2 separate regions of the Homo sapiens genome follow, and region 1 is linked to region 2. The links come from fine-mapping of genetic effects on gene expression. Tissue or cell type: whole blood. Region 2 holds a variant in brackets; the other region holds the start of a gene. All regions are shown on one strand. Distances are between the middles of the regions.

Evidence for each region. PIP is the estimated chance that this variant, and not a neighbour inherited with it, causes the effect.
Region 1: ATP5MC1 starts here. The variant in region 2 is fine-mapped to the expression of ATP5MC1 in whole blood (INTERVAL, PIP above 0.99).

The regions. Positions count from the first base shown.
Region 1 is chr17:48,891,549-48,894,048 of GRCh38, forward strand. It overlaps ATP5MC1 (ATP synthase membrane subunit c locus 1), which reads left to right and starts at 1,239. Exons shown (of 5, transcript NM_005175.3): 1 at 1,239-1,362; 2 at 1,861-1,908. The coding sequence starts at 1,870. It overlaps LOC105371814 (a long non-coding RNA gene), which reads right to left. Exons shown (of 4, transcript NR_135674.1): 2 at 699-1,129. RefSeq lists enhancers at 55-1,034, 672-1,131, 1,142-1,261, 1,842-1,951, 1,992-2,041.
Region 2 is chr17:48,843,521-48,846,020 of GRCh38, forward strand. The region is part of intron 2 of CALCOCO2 (calcium binding and coiled-coil domain 2); the gene reads left to right. Among named protein-coding and RNA genes, the nearest start is that of CALCOCO2, 14 kb to the left of the region's middle. The variant G/T (reference allele first, on the strand shown) is at 1,123.

The DNA of each region.
Region 1 (2,500 bases), 48 kb after region 2:
AGAGGATGGCCCATTCACAGCCTTTGAATAAAAATAAATATTGCCAAACTGCTTTCAAGGAAGGTTTTCTAATTCATCCTCTCACCAGCAATATAGGAGAGCGTGTGGCTCACATTAATAAAAAGAACTCTGCTGTTTTGAGCAGTACTAAGCGGAGCGTTTAAACTTATATTTCTTTGATTAGGAAGGCTGACATTCGTTCCTGCAATTCATATTTCTTCCTTACTGAATTGCCTGTTCCTATCCTTTGCTCGTTTTTCTATAGGGATATTATTTCATTCTTTCAGTGTTGTTTTTACAAAATAAACAATTTTTTTGTTTGTTTTTTCCCCCGAGACGGAATCCTGCTCAGTTGCCCAGGCTGGAGTGCAGTGGCGCGATCTCGGCTCCCTGCAACCTCGGCCTCCCGGGTTCAAGCGATTCTCCTGCCTCAGCCTCCCAAGTAGCTGGGATTACAGGCACGCGCCACCACCATGCCCGGCTAATTTTTGTATTCTTAGTAGAGACGGGGTTTCACCATGCTGGTCAGGCTGATCTCGAACTCCTGACCTCAGGTGATCCGCCCGCCTCGGCCTCCCAAAGTGCTGGGATTACAGGCGTGAGCCACTGCACCCGGCCCAACAAATGTTTTAGAAAGCCATCTGGATGATAGTCCATGACTGCTGAACACCGGCTGAGGTCCACAAAACTGCGCTCACCGCTTGGGGACTTTCCAGCCGGCCTTTACTCTCCATGGAAAGCGGTCTTTCCACAAACCTCCACGGTGGGAATTACTGCAAAGGCATCGGCTCTCCCGGCCTAGAATATCTCGCGGGATCTCAGCTGTCCTTGGGCCCCCCCCCTCAGCGCAACTACCAATCCCAACATGCAACGCGCCCCGTGGCCCAAGCGCCCGAATGAAGGCTCGGGGCCAAAGTCATGTGTCTGACTGCGTCACACGTCCCGTCATCTCTCCCACGCCTTTTTCTTCAGCGTACACCTTGGTCGCCATCTTGTGCGCGAGGTTATGGAACCTCTGAGTCCCGCCAACTCTATGGTCGAGCGTTTCAGGGATCGGCCAATCGTAATCCAGATCTCGTAGGAAAGCCCCGCCTCTATCCGCATGGAGGCGGGAATTGCCACGAAGCTCCTGTGGAGGGAGAGGAAGCAGCTGCGGAAAGCCAATAAGAGTGGGGAATCGATGACGTCAACCAATGGGGACGCGGGGATATTACGGCCAATGAGAATGGAGAAGGTCCAGGACACGTGGGTGGGGGAAGCTGAGCGCTGAGACCAAGGGCTAAAGCTGGGAGGTGAGTCTGTCACCTTGAGCCGGGCGAGCGCTGTGGGCCAAGCAGGGGTTGCAGGGTAGTAGGAGTGCAGGTGACTTGGGGCCGGGAGCCAGCAATAGGCAGGGTTGTGGGCTGGGCAGTGTGGAGGGGTATTTCCCCCCAGTGCTGGGAGAGGCTATGGCAATCTAGATATGGCCTTATCAATGAATGTTAATTACCAACGGTAATGAACGATTGACTGCCTCGGCTGGGGCGGGTCGGGGACTGCTGTGTAAGATGGGCAGGATCCTGCGCGACACCTGCCCAGTATCCGCCTCCAGTCTTCCCGAGAGACCATTCCCTTTCGCAACATTTCCTTCCTGGGGCTTGGGCACATTTCCTTGACTTCCGATCTCCATGACTTTGCTTTGAAGACCCACTGCTCTGTCCCTCTGACCTCTAATGCCCTCCTCAGCTGGGGCACGGTGCAAGGAAGAGCGTGGTCTAGGGAGGACGGACGGGGGTGAAGGGGACGACCAAAGGTCGTCATTATAAGCAAACAACCAGGGTCTCAGTGGGATTATTATTACTATTTTTTCCCCCTCTGCAGACTGAAAAAATGCAGACCGCCGGGGCATTATTCATTTCTCCAGCTCTGGTAAGGTGCCGCGCCGCAGTGCTCTGTAGTACCAGGTGTATGGTGTGGACGCCATCAGTGTTTAATGAATGAACCCAGGGGAGCTTGGCGTCCTGATGATGTAGGCTCTTTGAGGTGGCTGTAGGATGTGATGAAGGTAACCCCTGTTTATCTGGGCCTGTGAACCAAGCTATCTTGGCTTTGGAATGTGGTCAGAGAGTCTGGATTTGATTTTTATCCCCAGTCTGTCCTGGCCATAGAGACAGCCCACTAAAACAGTGGTTTTCAACAGTGGCTGCACGTTAGAATCATCCAGGGAACTTTTTAAAATCCTGATGCCTAGGCTGCACCTTAGACCATTTGCATCAGACTTTGGGAATGGGGGTGGAACCCAGGCATCTGTATCTTTTAAGACTTCTCCAGATGATTCCACCGTGCAGCCAAGTTTGAGAACCACTGCACTAAAAATTATTTCAAAAAAGCCATGTTACAGATGGCTCTCCTTGGATGGCTATTCCAGTCGGTTTCCGGGGCTGACTGGCCCACTCCATTTAGGGTGTGTAGCTGTGAGTGTATTTTAGCAGAATAAAATTTCCCCCATCTGATTACTTGG
Region 2 (2,500 bases):
TTGGAACATCAAGCTTATTGATGAGCAACGGAAGCTGGAGGTAACAAGACTGGTGTTTGGAGATAGGGATTGTGGCCAACCAGCAGGACACTGGCAAGTATCATGACAGCTGTTGAGACTGCAAGGTGTTGAATCATCAGACTAAAAGGCGTGCCAACCCACCAGAGTGTTTTCTGTCTTAGAAAGAAGATGGTAGTTGTTTTTCTTCCTCATATGTAGCAAAGCGTATAGGTCACATTGCCTGGTAAGAGTTTTCTGCAATGGAGCTGTAGCTTCACTGTCTAGTACAGCTGCTACTAGCCACATGTGGCTGTTAAGCACTTGAAATGTGGTTAGTGTGACTAAGTAACTGGATTTAATTTAATTTAATTTATTTATTTAGAGACAGAGTTTCGTTCTGTTGCCCAGGCTGGAGTGCAATGGCGCAATCTCGGCTCACCGCAACCTCCGCCTCCCAGGTTCAAGCGATTCTCCTGCCTCAGCCTCCCGAGTAGCTGGGATTACAGGCATGTGCCACCACGCCTGGCTAATTTTGTATTTTTAGTAGAGATAGGGTTTCTCCATGCTGGTCAGGCTGGTCTCGAACTCCCCACCTCAGGTAATCCGCCTGCCTCGGCCTCCCAAAGTGCTGGGATTACAGGTGTGAGCCACCGCACCCGGCCTGAGTAACTGGATTTTAAATTTTACTTAATGTTAATTAAAGTTTAAATAGCTTCATGTGGCTAGTGGCTATCATTGGTTAATGCAGGTACAGATCATGAAAAAGAGAATGATTCAAAAATTACTTACCAGACTTTAAAACGTAGTTTATAACGTCTTTTTTTTTTCTTTTTGGAACATCGTTATATTTCTATTTTGCTTAGACTGGTTGTATTCCCCCAAGCGCTTAGCAACCACCAGTAAAGACTTCACCATATATCATATGAAAATCTTGGGCGTTTTTCTTTTTTTAAGATGGAGTTTTGCTCTTGTCACCCAGGCTGGAGTGCAATGGCGCGATCTTGGCTCACTGCAACCTCTGCCTCCCTGGTTCAAGCGATTCTCCTGCCTCAGCCTCCCAGGTAGCTGAGATTACAGGCACCCCGCCTCCCCAGTTCAAGCGATTTCCTGTCTCAGCCTCCC[G/T]AGTAGCTGGGATGACAGGGACCCACCACCATGCGCAGCTAATTTTTGTATTTTTAGTAGAGACAGGGTTTCATCACGTTGGCCAGGCTGGTCTGGAACTTCTGACCTCAGATGATGCACCCACCTCAGCCTCCCAAAGTGCTGGGATTACAGGCGTGAGCTACCGCGCCCGGCCAATCTGGGGCCTTTTAAAAACAAGTGTTTAAAAATATTTTGTCCAGGTGCGGTGGCTCACGCCTGTAATCCCAGGAGGGAGGCCAAGGCAGATGGATCACTTAAGGTCAGGAGTTCAAGACCAGCCTGGCGAACATGGTGAAACCCCATCTCTACTAAAAATACAAAAATTAGCCAGGCGTGGTGGCACCCACCTGTAGTCCCAGCTACTCAGGAGGCTGAGGCAGGAGAATTGCTTGAACCCAAGAGGCAGAGGTTGCAGTGAGCCAAGATTATGCCACTGCACTCCAGCCTGGGCAACAGAGCAAGACTCCATCTCAAAAAAAAAATTTTTTTTAAAGATGTATCTATATTTGGAATGCTTCATACATTTCAGAGGTATTACCATACCCCAATAAAGAAATAATCGTTAATCTGAAGAAGGGCTTCTAATGTCCCTTGTCCATAAAGCTATTGACTTGAATACCTACCCTGAGGACACACTATGCTAGGCCTATGTTGAGGGTGTGTGTGTGTGTGTGTGTGTGTGTGTGTATTGCCTAATTAAATCCTCACTGTGTGTGTGTGTGTGTGTGTGTGTGTGTGTGTGTGTGTGTGTGTGTGTGTATTGCCTAATTAAATCCTCACAGTGGGCCAGGTGCTGTGGCTCATGCCTGTAATCCCAGCACTTTAAGAGGCCGAGGCAGGTGGATCACCTGAGCTAGGGAGTTCAAGACCAGCCGGACCAACATGGAGAAACCCTGTCTCTACTAAAAATACAAAATTAGCCAGGCGTGGTGGCACATGCCTGTAATCCCAGCTACTTGGGAGGCTGAGGCAAGAGAATCCCTTGAACCCAGGAGGCGGAGGTTGCAGTGAGCCAAGATCATGCCATTGCACTCCAGCCTGGGCAACAGAGCGAGACTCCATCTCAAAAAAAAAAAAAAAAGAAAAGAAAAGAAAGAAAAATTCTCACAGTGCAGTAGCCCCCTGAGGTGGGTAGTAGTATCTCTTGGGCATAAGTAAGTAACATGAATATCCCTGAGAGATGGTGACTTTCCCAAGGCCTCACAGTGAATAAGCCGTGAAGCAGGTTTGGCTCCCAAACCTCTGGTTTTTCCTCCTCTACTCTGCTGAATTCCTTTGAGCAACAGATAGTAAATTAGAGAATGAAGAGTTGGCTGTAAAGTTTCGTCCTTTGCAGCTCACCTCAAATGCTCTCCCC